2 linked regions of the Homo sapiens genome follow. The protein of the gene in region 2 purifies or fractionates together with the protein of the main gene of each other region. This does not show direct contact. Each region holds a gene or a part of one and is shown on either strand. Other genes may lie near its edges. The genes, in order: RRP1 and MOGS.

The links.
Region 1: the proteins of MOGS (region 2) and RRP1 purify together in Homo sapiens (co-immunoprecipitation; 2 studies listed by BioGRID and IntAct, with this or other methods). This does not show direct contact.

What each region holds. Positions count from the first base shown.
Region 1 is NC_000021.9:43,799,135-43,806,098, forward strand, and holds the end of RRP1 (ribosomal RNA processing protein 1 homolog A), read left to right. Parts: intron 1-435; coding exon 436-515; intron 516-1,382; coding exon 1,383-1,480; intron 1,481-1,727; coding exon 1,728-1,747; intron 1,748-3,139; coding exon 3,140-3,253; intron 3,254-4,186; coding exon of another isoform or gene 4,187-4,311; exon of another isoform or gene 4,312-4,371; intron 4,372-4,377; coding exon 4,378-4,640; 3' UTR 4,641-6,159; downstream 6,160-6,964. UniProt on the Homo sapiens protein: Plays a critical role in the generation of 28S rRNA.
Region 2 is NC_000002.12:74,462,213-74,470,951, forward strand, and holds the start of MOGS (mannosyl-oligosaccharide glucosidase), read right to left. Parts: upstream 3,171-8,739; 5' UTR 3,036-3,170; coding exon 2,684-3,035; intron 2,511-2,683; coding exon 2,284-2,510; intron 1,175-2,283; coding exon 978-1,174; intron 801-977; coding exon 1-800. UniProt on the Homo sapiens protein: In the context of N-glycan degradation, cleaves the distal alpha 1,2-linked glucose residue from the Glc(3)Man(9)GlcNAc(2) oligosaccharide precursor in a highly specific manner.

The sequences.
Region 1 (6,964 bases), on a different chromosome or scaffold from region 2:
CCTAGCTCGAGCACCCAGCCGAAACATCAGCTCCCACAGCTTCTGGACCAGGCCACCCTGAGGCTCCTCACTTCCAGAACTTTTGACATGGCCTTTGTTGCCCAAGATGCCAGCTTGTAGTCAGCCACTCAGGGCTGTGTAGGCACCTGTGCCCTGGGACATCTTTTTTTCCTTTGCAGGCCTGAGGTGGCACCTCTCATCCTGTCCATACGAGATTAGAGGTCACATGGCACCTAGTATCTGCCTTGAGCTGTGGGCTTTCCCGCCTGTGCCCATGTTCTGACCAGGGTGCAGGGTGGGCTGTCCGTTCCCGGGTGTTTCCCGCCTGTGCCCGTGCTCCGACCAGGGTGCACGGAGCGGGCTCTCCATTCCTGGATGTTTGGGGCCAGCACACGTTGGGCACAGGTAGGGTTCACGGGGTCCCTTTTGTTCCAGGCTCCATCTGCAGGGCTGAACCTGAGGCTGGTGAGGAGCAGGCAGGTGACGACAGGGACAGTGGCGGCCCCGTTCTCCAGGTGGGTTCCCTGGGCTCATGGCTGTGCCCTCAGCCTTTGCCCCTCTGTGCTACCGCTTGCTCTGGAAGAGGAGGGGGGCGTTAGGAGGGAGGATGGCAGCTGTTGGCATGGAGAGTTACCCGGACAGGGGTTAGCTTTGAAGGAGGGATGGGTGCCCCAACCCTGCCCGCCTGTAGACGAGTGGGATCATTGAGAGTGGGGCTGGGGCCTGGGAAAGTGGGGCTGGGGCCTGGGAGGGTGGGCTCAGGCAGAACTGCATTATCCAGGGCTGGCCTCACCTCACGCTGTCCTCTTGCCTCACACATGGGCAGCCCCCCAGATTTCCTGCGGCCCCCTCGTTGGGGTGCTGGTGGGGAATGAGATGGCATGTGCCAAGCGGCTGGCCTGTGGGTCCCAGCGAGGAATCCACTCAGCCAGTGGGGTCTGACTTCAGGCAAATTGGAAACTTAAATGTTTTAAGTTTTAAATATGATTATCTGCAGACTGAATAAAATGTGGCTATCTTGGGTTAAAATTGATCAATTTAACCTATGTTGTTCGTGCTTGTCTGTGTGGTTCCTAGAGTGGTAAAGCTGCAGGCAGGCTACCGGCGGGCGTGTGCCCTGCAGTGTGCCCCGCAGTGTGCATCTTCCAGAGTGTGCCCCGCAGTGCGTGCCCCGCAGTGCGCCCGCAGCTTGTGTGGTGCCCGCTGTGCTGTAGAGTGGGTGGAGCTGCAGGACCCTCAGTGAGGGTGGGCTGTGTTCCTGTGAGCCGGGTGGAGAACCTGCAAGTGGGACCAAGTGCTATCTGGGTCTCAGGGGTTCCACGTTCTCGGAGCACGCAGAGCGTGGCTGACCTTGCCTCTGTGACGTCTCTCTTTTGAAACAGTTTGACTACGAGGCAGTTGCTAACAGACTGTTTGAAATGGCCAGCCGCCAGAGCACCCCTTCTCAGAACAGAAAGCGTCTCTACAAAGTGATCCGGAAGTGAGTGTGTGAGGGCGCTGCGTCCTCCCTGCTCCCCTTGGAGTTGCCCTTTCTTGCTCAGATCTGGGTGCCTTTGCCTTGTCCTGGGCCCTTCCGCAGCCCCCGGGGTGATCCCCGCTAGGACCCTGAGACCGTCCCCAGCCCCTGGGGTTCCCCTGGCTAGGAACCTGCAGCCGCTCTAGCTGGAGCTTCCTCCTCCTGCGGAAGCCGCAGCTGTGGTAAGTGGGTATCTGTCTTACTCTTTCAGGCTGCAGGACCTGGCAGGAGGTGAGGATCGGCCGGGCACTGACAGTGGCACCACCTTGGAGGTGGAGCTCCATCCTCGTGGGAGTGGTTTGGTTCTAGGGGTCTCATAGCACGTGGAGTCTCTTTGCAGAGAGGCCTGGTGGTGTTTCTGAGGGACAGGGAGGCAGGGCGCAGGGTTCCACAGCTCTCGTTTTTGTGGTTTTTGCTGAGTGGTTCTCAGACTTGAGTGTCCATTGGAGTGCCCCAGAGCCTGAGAGATGGGGTGCTGGCCTCAGGGGCTCCCAAGCACTGACCGCGGTGCTGCTGCTGGTCTGTTGGGCAGCACACGTCTGTTCTTGGCAGCGCGTGGCGGATGGAACTGGCATAGGTTATCGGAAGGACGGTTTCCTAGTGGGCGTCGATGGTTAGAGACGTAGGCGTTTCCCCTGGTGTTTCCTTATGAAAAGTTTCAGACCTGCAACTCAGTTGGAAGGATTTTATAGTGGATGTCTGCGTGTCCCTGCCGGCCTCCAGCATCAGCACTTCCTGTCCTTGCGTGAAGCTCCTCTATCCCAGCATCACACCCCTGCATCCGCCAGCGGGCGCGTCATCAGCTGTAGTCCAGGGTTTGGTTTTTTTATTTTTTATTTTTTGAGGCGGTGTCTCGCTCTGTTGCCCAGGATGGCGTGCAGTGGTGTGATGCAGCTCACTGCAGCCTCGATCTCCTGGTCTCAAGCGATCCTCCCGCCTCAGCCTCCCAGTCGCTGGGACCACAGGCGCACGCCACCACGCCGGCTAATTGTTGTATTTTTTGTAGAGACAGGGTTTCGCTGTGTTGCCCGGCTGGTCGTCTGGGGTTTTCGGGACAGCGCGCGTCAGTGAGGTGCGTGAGGATCGTGTGCATCTGGCAGGTTTTGATGCAGAAAGTTGCCTTGGGCCGCCAGCATGAGCATTGTAGGCTGTAGACTTTGGTGTACAGGTTGAGCGTCTCTAATCTGAAACCCCAAATCCAAAATGCCACCAAGTCCAAAGCTGAGTGCTGACAGGAAGCTCCAGGGAAATGCTCGTCGCAGTGTTTTCTGTTTGGGGTTTTCAGGTGAGGGCTGTTGAACTGGTGAATATGATGCAGACGTTCCAAAACAACCTGACATTCAAAGCACTGCTGGTCCCAGGCATTTGGGGTCGTGGACGCTCTATGCTGTACCTGTGTCCTGGATGCTCCAGGAACTGGCTTTTCCAGATGGGCTTGGGTCTCAGCTGGTTCGTTTCAGCTGTGGCGGGTACTGAACACGCTGCTCCTGGGCATTAGAACAGGGCGCTTTCTCACACACATTGTCAGGAGGTGGTGCTGGCTGGGGCCTGCTGGAAGCAGCGAGCCTCAAACCATAAGTCCCCAGCCCCCGAGAGCCCCCTGACTTCTGCCCTGGTTCTCAGGCATTTTCCCTGAAGATGAGATCCCAGAGAAGGCCTGCAGGCGCCTGCTTGAAGGGAGGCGGCAGAAGAAGACGAAGAAGCAGAAGCGTCTGCTCAGGTTGCAGCAGGAGAGAGGTAGGACTAGGGGGTGTGTTAGTCATGGAGCCGGCGTCCTCACCTGCTTGCTTCTCCCCTGGATGGGGGTCACCTGCAGTGTCTCCCCCTGAAGCATGAGTGCCGAGTCCCCCATCCTGGGTGCCTGCTATCCACGCATCCCGGAAATGCCCTGTCCTCGGCATCCCTCCTGTAGGCCTCTCCCTGCCTCCCCCACCCACCTTCCTTGTCTGCAGCTCCCCCGAGCTGTGTGCGCTGCCCTCCCTCCCGGTCTGGAGACATCCTCCTGGCTGGGCTGCCTCCTTCCGTGCCTCCGTCTTAGATCCAAGCCCCGTCCGCTCCTCTCCCGCACCCTCCAGAGATTCCTGAGTCTCTCCACGTCTTCCTTCCCCTTCTTCCCTCCACTTCTTCCCTCCACTTCTGTCCTTGATTTCTGGGGCTGCCTTCCGTGTTGGGCCTCTGGCCACACGAGTGTGGTTGGCATGTGATGCCCTCACCAGGGGCAACCCTGGGTCCGCGGCAGACCACTCAGGGCCTGGAGCTGCCTACCTGCAGTGGAGGGGGTTGAGCACAGTGCCGGGCAGGGCAGGGGGCCCATGGCAAGAATGGGGTGCAGAGGAGGCACATGGTGGCTTTGCCCCACACTGGGAAGCCTTCCCTGTTACTCTCTCCATGCTAAACTGGCCCCAGGGCCTAGGGATTCACCCCTTCCCTTGCCCAGAGCTCCGTGCCATTGAAGCCGTCCATCTCATTTCCCATGAGGCAGTGGCCTCCTCTTTGTAGCCGGCCCTTGGCTGTGTGAACCCTGTCGGCCCTGGCGTTCAGGACCTGGCACTGCCTGGCGTCCTGTTCTTCCACCTCCCCTTCTGCCTTGAGCCCAGTCCTGCCTACTCCTCTGTGCCTTTGCTCCTGGGTCTCATGACCCTGTCCTCACGCTGGTCCTTCTGAGGTCAGCCCTTGCTGAGGTCCTGAGCCGTGTGGATGGAGCTTGGCGCCCACACTGGACACGGGATGCGTCTGGCTGGCTGTTGTGGCCGTGTTGTCCTCCCAGGTCTGTGGTGCTGGCATCCTCAGCCTGAGTTGGAGTAAGTGGAAAGAGCCCGTGTTGGCATTCTCTGGCTCATGGGGTCTTGCTGTTTTGTCAGGGAAAGGTGAGAAGGAGCCCCCGAGCCCGGGCATGGAGAGGAAGAGGAGCAGGAGGAGGGGTGTAGGGGCCGACCCCGAGGCGCGGGCAGAGGCTGGTGAGCAGCCAGGCACAGCTGAGCGGGCCCTGCTCCGAGATCAGCCCAGGGGCCGTGGCCAGAGAGGGGCTCGCCAGAGAAGGAGGACACCTCGGCCCCTGACCAGTGCCCGAGCAAAGGCGGCCAATGTCCAGGAGCCGGAGAAGAAGAAGAAACGCAGGGAGTGATGTGGCCGGGCCAAGGACAGGCAGGGAGGGAGGCCAGGCCTCGCTTGCACCGCGGGACGAGGCTGACCGGGCTGTTCTGTAGACTCAGGACCGTGGCTCCAGAACTCCTGTGCCAGGCGGGAGGGAAGGGCGGCACTGGAGAGATGGGCCCATCATTAGGGGCCAGCATCCCAGGAACTGGACCTTTCCCCAGAGCCTCCGCCTGTGGCTGTGATGACCTTGGGCCAGAAGGTCAAACTCCGAAGACTGAAACTCTGCCTGCAGCAGGACTGGCCGCCCCTGCTGTGGGGGGTTCAGAAAATAAAATGCCGCGCAGCCCTTGCCAGGGGAAGTGTCGCTTCAGGTGTGTCCTACGGACGTGTGGGAGGTGGCAGGCGCCAGCCTCCGAGCAGTGTGGTGGTTTATATTCATGTTTGTGGAAAAATCTTGCAAGACATTTCTCCTTTCACAGAACTGCCCAGGTGTTAACAGGGCTGTCTGGACGGGGCTCTTTTGCTTCCCCCTCAATCTGGGGTCTAGAGTTGTGCAAGGAATTCAGCTCCAGTAAGGCCTGGATTGCCCGGGGTGAGCGTGTGTGTGGTGGGAAGACCTGGCTTCCGCGAGAGCCTTGTTCCTGGAGGCAGGAGCGCCCCGCCATCCTGGGTACCCGCGGGTCCGCAGGCTGCGCACCTCTTTCCCTCAGCCAGGTCACCCTCAGCGTCCTCCCTGCCCCTCTCCCCTTCACACCTGCTGGAGCCTGTGAGGGAGGTGGCGGGTCCCCACTGTGGCGACGGAGAGCTGACAGTAGCCCAGGGCTTTCCACCTGCATGGAACAAGGGCCTGTCTGCCGCCAGCGCTGTGGCCACAGCCTGCATAGGTGACAAGGGGCCGCTGCGTTGGGTTTTGCCCGCATCTTCTGTTCCATGGGTGCCCAGCCAGCCAGGCCGTGTGGGATCCAGCGAGAGGCCAGGGCTTGGAGTGGGCCTGGGACCAGGAAGGACCTCTAGGCTGTGGCTGGCCTTGTGCAGACCCTGGACTGCATCCGGTTCCCCAAAGCCCTGCTGCATTCGAGTGTCCCCCAACCCCGGGCAGGTGGCACCTGGTGACACCTCCTTCAGTCCCACTCAGCTGGGCGGCCGGGGCAGGCTTAGGGCACAGTTAGGGGCCAAGGAGAGGGAAGGCCAGGGCCCCTGTTCTAGGGGTTAGGGTTCTTTCCCCAAAGGAACTTAAAAAGACAAGCGTGGCCAGGCACAGTGGCTCACACCTGTAATCCCAGCACTTTGGGAGGCCGAGGTGGCCAGATCACCTGAGGTCAGGAGTTTGAGACCAGACTGACCAACATGGAGAAACCCCATCTCTACTAAAATACAAAATTAGCCAGGCGTGGTGGCACATGCCTGTAATCCCAGCTACTCGGGAGGCTGAGGCAGGAGAATTGCTTGAACCTGGGAGGCAGAGGTTGTGGTGAGCTAAGATCACGCCATTGCACTCCAGCCTGGGCAACGAGAGGGAAACTCTGTTTCAAAAAAAAAAAAAAAAAGACAAGCGTGTCTAACGTAAACTGCCGGTGGCGAGCGTCAGGTCTGGGCAGTGTCCCCTGGGCCTGGTCAGTGTTCCCCTGGGCCTGGCCTCTTTACCCCCAGCAGGGCCTGTTGGGACGAGCCCCTGCAGTTGGAGGCCTTTGGAAGGGAACGGGGTGCATTATAACGCTTTCTTGTTTTTGAAGTTTCTTTGGTCAAAAGCTAAGGAAACAACCATGCTAACAGAAGTTTCTGGAAAAAAGCAAATTAGAGATGCCGAATTGCAGTTGTGAAACTGGAAGCCACAGTGACTTTGCATCTTCTTTCACATGTGTGTTCACAGGGAGGGGTTTTTCATGGCTGCGCCGGCACTGTCACGCTCTGGCTGTTTCCAGGCCCTGCTGGGTGCACGTTTCCCCATATTCAGAATTGTTTTAAATAACCGCATTGTGCTTATGACATGAATGACTGAATTCCTCTCCTATTGGTAGCCTCTTTTACTTTTTTATTTTTTTATTTTTGAGACTGAGTTTTGAGTTGAGTTTTTTTTGAGACCGAGTTGTTTTATTTCCGCACATGAATGGTAGTTCCAGCTACTCAGGAGGCCAAGGTGGGAGAAGCGCCTGAGCCCAGGAGAGAACCATCGAGAGGTAATTCACATGGAGTACAGTTCGCCCAACTGAAGTGTGTAATTCGAGTTTTCAGCATATTCAAAGTTGTACAGCCATCACCACAGTCAACTTTAGACCATTTTCAGCCCAAAAGAAACTGGGCCATCGCCCCTCTGTCTCCCCGCCACCTGCACGCATCCTCCCGGCCTCAGGT
Region 2 (8,739 bases):
CAACCTCTAGCATATGGGCTACAGGCAAAAGTAGGGTTGGGGGGTTGGCGTGGACTGCTCGTTGTACTAGGAATTCTGGAGGCACCCGGGCTCGGGCCTCATCCCCCAGTATCTGCTCCCTCCCAATCCAGCCATCAGCATTTAGCAGCCCCAGCCAGTGGCCAAGGGCTTCCCGGGTGAGGGAGGGATCCCACCGCTGAACCACCAGCTGGTGAAAGCCTTCATCCCAAAGGAAGCCTCGTGGGAAGAATGACCGGGAGGGCACTGCTGTAAAAAGAGGTACGGGTGGAAAGAGGGCTGGGTCCACCTTCTGCTCAGACCCTTCCACCCCGATGTCTGGCAATACCAGCCCTTGTCCGTAGAAGTAGCCAATTCCACCAAGGAGGCCGCTGAGGGCAGCCTGACCCAAAACCTGCTCGCCAGAGCTCAGGCCCTTCTCCTTCAGCTGGAAGGTCTTCTCAAAGCGCTCTCTAAAGCCTTCAGCATGGCTCTCCAGGGCCTGGGTCAGTAGACTGCCTGCCAGTCTTGGCAGGGCTTGATTTCCTCCTGCCTGGGCACTGCCTGATTCAAACACAAACTCTATGGAAATGGGAATTTTCAGGGTCACCTGCTGTATCAAGAACTGCCCCTGCCCTTGCCCACTTGGACCTCTGTCCTCCCACTTCAGGGATCCTGGCAAGCCGAGGTAGCGTTCAGGGGGGGCCCCTGGGGGCCGATGCTGAAACCAGCTATTTAGGCGACTCTTTACCATCTCTGTCAGCAGGGGCAGTCCTGGGTTGGAGGTCCAGAAGACATTGTAGCTTGAAGGGGAGAAGATAAATAGGAAATATTATTCAAGAGAAGGCAGTGGGCATTATAAAGAGAAATACAAAGTGTTCAGGAGTCAGGTTGGGAGGTCTCAGGCAGGGGACATGGAGACTGGTGAAAATGGGAATAACCACCCCTTCCATCCCCCAACATTCTTTTCCCCCAGTTACCTGCCATACTTGGGGGCTGTATCCCCTGGACTGGTTGGTGGCAAAAGTGTAAAGCGGAAGTCACCAAGTTCACTGGTGTGCCCACTGATAAACTTCAACTGCCCCTTGGCCCCAACCTCTGGTAGTAGGACTTCCTTGCCATCTGTCACCACATAGAAGAACAGGGAGACCAAAGGGAGGGCAGAAGTACCTGAGTCCTGAGTGACCAACGAGGACAGAAAAGAACAGTGTTAGATTGGCATTCTCTCTTGAATTCCCTCTTGAGAATCAGCCTTAGTGAGGGAAAGGAACAGTAGGCAGGGGTAATGTAAACAACATACGTCTGGCAGTAATGAGGGTCACTGAGGGTAACCAGGTACACCCAAGCGGGATGAGATAAAGAGCCTTGCACTGGGTGCCCTGGGAGATAACAGTATACTTTTGTACTATGTCCTACACTAAGAACTCTACACAGTTGATTTCATTTAATTCTTTTTTTTTTTTTTTTTTTTTGAGGCGGAGTCTCGCTCTGTCGCCCAGGCTGGAGTGCAGTGGCGCGATCTCAGCTCACTGCAAGCTCCGCCTCCCAGGTTCACGCCATTCTCCTGCCTCAGCCTCCCGAGTAGCTGCGACAATAGGCGCCCGCCACCACGCCCAGCTAATTTTTTGTATTTTTAGTAGAGACCGGGTTTCACCGTGTTAGCCAGGATGGTCTCCATCTCCTGACCTCATGATCCGCCCGCCTCAGCCTCCCAAAGTGCTGGGATTACAGGCGTGAGCCACCGCGCCTGGCTTTTTTTTTTTTCTTGAGATGGAGTTTTGCTCTTGTTGCCCAGGCTGGAGTGCAATGGCACGATCTCGGCTCAGCGCAACCTCCACCTCCCTGGTTCAAGCAATTCTCCTGCCTCAGCCTCCCAAGTAGCTTGGATCACAGGCATGCGCCACCACGCCCGGCTAATTTTATATTTTCAGTAGAGACGGTGTTTCTCCATTTTGGTCAGGCTGGTCTGGAACTCCTGACCTCAGGTGATCCGCCAGCCTCGGCCTCCCAAAGTACTGGGATTACAGGCGTGAGCCACCGCGCCCAGCCTCTTTTTCATTTAATTCTTACAGTCCTGTGAGTTAAGTGCTATTATTATCTACATTGTACATTTTACAAGCAAGGAAATCAAGGCTTAGAGATGGTAAATAGAAATGGTTATACAGGCAGTTGTTTAAGGCAGGATTTAAGCCAGGCAGCCAGAGCCCACTTCATGCTGCATTTGCTGGCAGCAAGGGAAGGATGGAGGGGGTCTGGGCTGAGAAAAGGGTGTCCTGAGGCCCTGACCTGAGGCTCTACAGTCACTCTCCAGCTCCAGTCCCCTCCGTGCTGACCCCCAGGCCTCTTGACGAACTCAGTGGTGAGCCTTAAGGCCCCATCCTGGATGTGTTGGCGCCCGAAGGAGAGGCCGTCGTGGAACTCCCAGCCATAGGGACCCACACCGTCCCCCTGCTCACACGTGTGCCTGAGCTTAGGAGTCCCCGGGGTGGTGCCCTGCTGCGCCCACATCAGTCCTGGGGGTAGAATGGCCACGTAAGTCAAAGAGCAGGGGACCTGTCCCTCCGGGTCTCCGGGTCATCCCTCTTCATAACTCTCCTGATCCATTCCTTCCCACCCTTGCTCTCGCTTCAAGCTGGGGCGCCCAGATTAGGAGTCCGCCTGCCTGCCCGCCCTGGGGCCCGGTTACCGGTGAGGAGGGGCTTCGGGCTGCGGGTCTTCATGCCGAAGTAGACGTGAGGGCGGTAGGTTCCCCAGAAGAGGTCCGGGGCCACGGCGGGGCTGGAGGAGTCGGCAGGCAACACAGGAGGCGCGGAGTGCAGCGTGACCGCCCGCCGCGCACGGTACCACGCCAGCACCCAGCGCCCCGACATACCCAGGGCCAAAGACAGGACCACGACGGCCAGAGCCACTCCTCCAGCCGTGCTACGCGGCCCGCCGCCCCGGCCGTCCCGTCGCCCGGGGCCTCCCCGAGCCGCCCTCTCGGCTGTCCGCACTCCCTCTGCCGGCACTGCGCGGCGCCGCCGCTCGCCCCGAGCCATCCTGGCACTGAGGTCCGCGTCACAAGAGCTCGGAGAGGCGGCAGTGGAGCCCGGGTCCTGCCTCACCTCTCCGGCTCCCGCCTCTCGCCCTGGCGACCACCGTCCGGTTAGCGACACCTGCCAGCCAGCGCCTGCGCCTCCGCCTCCGCCTCCCGCCGGAAGTCCCGCCCCGCCACGTTAGGTTAAGTCCCAGAGTCCGGAACCGCTGCCTGCGGCTTGACACAGGGTTGGTACGTAGCGTCTGTCCTGGGCGTTGGTCCACCGGGATTGCGTTTATCTGGCGACCCCATGGAGTTCACAGGCTCGGAAAAACCAATCTAACGTTGGGCTGAGGCATGAGAATCGTTTGAACCCGGGAGGCGGAGGTTGCAGTGAGCCGAGATTGTGCCACTGCACTCCAGCCTGGGCGACAGAGCGAGACTTCGTCTCAAAAAAAAAAAAAAAAGACTGATGTGGCCAGGCACCGAGGCGCACATCTGTAATCCCAGCACTTTGGGAGGCCGAGGCAGGTGGATCACCAGACATGAGGAGTTGGAGACCAGCCTGGTCAACTTGGTGAAACCCCATCTCTACTAAAAATACAAAAATTAGCCGGGTGTGGTGGTGGGTGCCTGTAATCCCAGCTATTCGGGAGGCTGAGGCAGGAGAATTGCTTGAACCTGGGAGGCGGAGGTTGCAGTGAGCCGATATTGCGCCATTGCACTCCAGCTTGGGCAACAAGAGTGAAACTGTTTCAAAAAAAAAGAAAGAGAGAGAGAGAGAGAGATGGAGGGAGGGAGGGAGGGACGGAGGGAGAGAGAGAGAGAGAGAGAGAGACTGATGCTTTATGCAACACGACCACTTATATTTCACTATAATCTGACTGGTGGCCCCACTCTCCACTAGTGGTAGACTTTTTGCTTATGAAATCATCTGACCAAACCCAATGGTTAGTCCTGTTTTTGTCTTTCTTGCTACCGTTGCATTTGTCGACATCCTTATTGTAGCACTTATTACATACCTGTTTCATTTTTCATCTTTGTATCACAGTACTAATCAATTATAGGCATAAGGCAGATGCTAAATATTTATAAATTCAACACATGTTTATTGTACACCCTATATCGCATTATGCAAGGTGCTGGGGACTCAGAGAAAATGGCCCCAACCTCAAGTTCACAGTCTAGAAGCACAATGCCAGCACTCAATGCATGTTGAACCATACCCATTTTTTTTTTTTTTTTTTTTTTGAGACGGAGTCTCGCTCTGTCACCAGGCTGGAGTGCAATGGCATGATCTCGGCTCACTGCAACCTCTGCCTCCAGGGTTCAAGTGATTCTCCTGCCTCAGCCTCACGAGTAGCTGGGATTACAGGTGCCCACCACCACGCCCAGCTAATTTTTGTATTTTTAGTAGAGATGGAGTTTCACCAGGTTTGCCAGGCTGGTCTCGAACTCCTGACCTCAGGTGATCCACCCACCTCGGCCTCCCAAAGTGCTGGGATTACAGGCGTGAGCCACCGCGCCTGGCCAGACCACCCCCATTTTTACAGATGAGGAGAGTAGTTAAGACTGACCCAAAATAACAGCCAGTTAATTATGGAGCTGGGGAACTCAAATCCAGGTTGTTCTTTTGACTTTAGAATAAGGCCTCTTAGGGCAGGCGCAGTGGCTCAAGCCTGTAGTCCCAGCACTTTGGGAGGCAAAGGCGGGCGGATCACCTGAGGCTGGGAGTTCGAGACCAGCCTGACCGACATGGAGAAACCCCGTCTCTACTAAAAAATACAAAATTATCTGGGCATGGTGGTGCATGCCTGTAATCCCAGCTACTCGTGACACTGAGGCAGGAGAATCACTTGAACCCGGGAGGCAGAGATTGCAGTGAGCCAAGATTGTGCCATTGCACTCCAGCCTGGGCAACAAGAGCGAAACTCTTGTCTCAAAAAAAAAAAAAAAAAAAAAAAAGAATAAATAAGGCCTCTTAGATAACAGCAGTTACTACACTCCCAGCAATGTTTTAGGTACTTTACAGATATTAATTCATTTAATCTCCTTAACAGTCCTATGAGAAAAGTACTATTATTTTCATTTTACAAATGAAATAAGCACTGATAGATTAAATAATTTGTCTAAAGTCATACAGCTACATAAAAACAAAGCTAGGATCTCAACCCCAAGCAGTCTGGCTCATTACAACACTATACTGCCTCCTCCTAGCTTTCTTTTTTAAAGGGGGAGGGGAAAAACGGTCCTTTGAAGATAGCACCCTTTTAGACCGGGAAAAGGTATAGTAATGCTGCTGTAGGAGGGTCGTGGGAAATGTATCTGGCAAAGTACACAGCAGGCCACTGTCTACAGATCTTTTGTTACCTAGCTGAGCATTGTGAAGGTGTCTAAAGCAGTGGCTTTCAACCATTTTCCTACAACTCACAATAAGAAATAATTCCATAGTGCAACCCAGTATGTGCAGATACACATACACACACAACTTATTTAAAACAAGTTACCTAAAAGAATACTTTTAGCTGGGTGTGGTGGCTCACGTCTGTAATCACAGCACTTTAGGAGGCCAAGGCAGGAGAATCACTTGAGTTCAGGAGTTCTAGACCAGCCTGGACAAGATGAGGAGACCCCCCCATCTACAAAAAATTTAAAAATTAGGGTTGGCCGGGTGTGGTGGCTCACGCCTGTAATCCCAGCACCTTGGAAGGCTGAGGCGGTGGATCACCTGAGGTTAGGAGTTCAAGACCAGCCTGGCCAACATGGTGAAACCCCGCCTCTACTAAAAACACAAAAATTAGCTGGGCATGGTGGCACGCGCCTGTAATCCCAGCTACTTAGGAGGCTGAGGCAGGATAATCACTTGAACCCGGGAGGCAGAGGTTGCAGTGAGCTGAGATGGCACCATCGGCGACAGAGCAAGACTCCGTCTCAAAAAAAAAAAAAAAAAAAAATTAGGGCTGGGCACGGTGGCTTACTCTTGTAATCCTAGCACTTCGGGAGGCCAAGGAGGGTGGATTACTTGAGGTCAGGAGTTCCTGACCAGCCTGGCCAACATGGTGAAACTCTGTCTCTACTGAAAATACAAAAATTAGCTGGAAATCGCTTGAACCCAGGAGACAGAGATTGCAGTGAGCTAAAATCGTGCTCCACTGCACTCCAGCCTGGGCAACAGAGCAAGACTCCATCTCAAAAAAAAAAAAAAAAAATTAGGCCAGGCATGGTGGCTCACGCCTGTAATTCCAGCTGCTTGGGAGGCTGAGGCGGGAGGACTGCTTGAGCCCAGGAGATGGAGGGTGCAGTGAGCTACGATTGTGCCACTGCACTCCAGCCTGGGTGACAAAGCATGACTTAATCTCTTTAAACTTCCTATTCTAAGTGCCATGCAGTCTGATTTTTTTTTTTTTTTTTTTTGAGATGGAGCCTTGCTCTTGTCAACCAGGTTAGAGTGCAATGGTGCTATCGGCTTACTGCAACCTCCACTTCCCGGGTTCAAGCAATTCTCCTGCCTCAGCCTCCCAAGTGGCTGGGATTACAGGTGCCCGCCACCACACCCGGCTAATTTTTTGTATTTTTAGTAGAGATGGGGTTTCACCATGTTGGTCAGGTTGGTCTTGAACTCCTGACCTCAGGTGATTCCGCCCACGTCGGCCTCTCAAAGTGATGGGATTACAGGCATGAGCCATTAAACTCAGCCTCAGTCTGATAATTTTTATTCTATTCTACTTTTTTTTTTTTTTTGAGACAGAGTCTCACTCCATCAACCGAGCTGGAGTGCAGTGGCATGATCTCCACTCAGCGCAGCCTCCACCTCCTGGGTTCAAGTGATTCTCCTGTCTCAGCCTTCTGAGTAGCTGAGATTACAGGTGCCTGCCACCACACCCAGCTATTTTTTATTTTTTTATTTTTAGTAGAGACAGCGTTTCATCATATTGGCCTGGCTGGTCTCTAACTCCCAACCTCAAGTGATCTGCCCGCCAAAGCCTCCCAAAGTGCTGGGATTACAGGCATGAGCCACTCCACCCGGCCTACTTTTTTTATTTTATTTTATTATTATTATTTTTTTAAGAATGGTTTAGGCTGGGTGCGGTGGCTCATGCCTGTAATACCAGCACTTTGGGAGGCCGAGGTGGGTAGATCACCTGAGGCCAGGAGTTCGAGACCAGCCTGACCAACATGGAGAAACCCCCTCTACTAAAAGTACAAAATTAGGCATGGTGGTGCATGCCTGTTATCCCAGCTACTTGTGAGGTTGAGGCAGGAGAATTGCTTGAACCCGGGATGCGGAGGTTGCAATGAGCTGAGATTGTGCCATTGCACTCCAGCCTGGGCAACAAGAGCGAAACCCTATCTAAAAAAAAAAAAAAAGAATGGTTTAACTCCCTAAATTGATTGCATGGTCCACACTAATGAGTGTTGAGGAAGTATGAAAAACAGTTTAGGCAATGTTTTTTCTTTTTTTGAGACGGAGTCTTGCTCTGTCACCCAGGCTGGAGTGCAGTGGTGCAGTATCGGCTCACTGTAACCTCCACCTCTTGGGTTCAAGCAGTTCTCCTGCCTCAGCCTCCTGAGTAGCTGGGATTACAGGCAACTGCCACCACGCCCGGCTAATTTTTGTATTTTTAAGAGATGAGGTTTCACCATGTTGGTTGGGCTGGTCTCGAACTCCTGACCTCATGATCCACCCACCTCGGCCAAATCCCAAAGTGCTGGGATTACAGGCATGAGGCACCATGCCCGGCCGGCACTGTTTTCTTAAACAGGGAGTAGTGAGAGATAAAACCCATCGCATGTTTTGGAAGGATAAAATTAAGTGGCAGCAAAAATATTTAGGAAATAGACTGGGTAGCAGAATGCAATAATGATGAATAGAGTGAATGGGAATGGAGAGATCACTTCAGAAGTTTTGTTTTGTTTTTGAGACAGTGTCTTGCTCTGTCACCAGGCTAGAGTGTAGTGGTGCAACCACAGCTCACTCTAGCCTTGAACTCTTAGGCTCAAAAGGATCCTCCTGTCTCAGCCTTCTGAGTAGGTGGGACTACAAGTATGAGCCACCTTGCCCAACTTTCAGGCACTTTTTTAAAAGACAGAATATTCTGAACTGAGTGACCAGATATGCAGAGAATGGAAAGGAACAGAACTAGAGAACACTGGTTTCCAGCCCAGGTGGCTGAGTAGATGAAGTGCCTGTTTTTAAAAAGGAATGGGTAAGTCAGGGAAGAGAGGCAAGTATATGTGTATGTAAGATTATCAATTCTATTTTATACAAAGAGAGTTGGTGGGATTTGGAGGAAATTGGTAGCAGGTAACCTGATTATAGCATAGAAGTTGGGATTAGAACCAAACAGAAATAGTTTAACCCCAGAAGGTGTAATTCAAGTTGTGAAAGAGGATGAGATGCCCCAGAAAAAAATAGAGAAGAAAAAGAATGAAGGTAGAACACCTGTGTGGTTCAAAAGAAAAAGGACCCAAGAGGGAGAGAAGTTCCACAAATGGGTGAATTAAGAGTTGCAGGCCGGGCACAGTGGCTCATGCCTGTAATCCCAGCACTTTGGGAAGCCGAGGGGGCGGATCAGGAGTTTGAGGACAGCCTGGCTGACATGGCAAAGCCCCATCTCTACTGAAAATACAAAAATCAGCCAGGCGTGGTGGCACATGCCTGTAATCCCAGCCACCCAGGAGGCTGAAGCAGGAGAATCACTGGAACCCGGGAGGCGGAGGCTGCA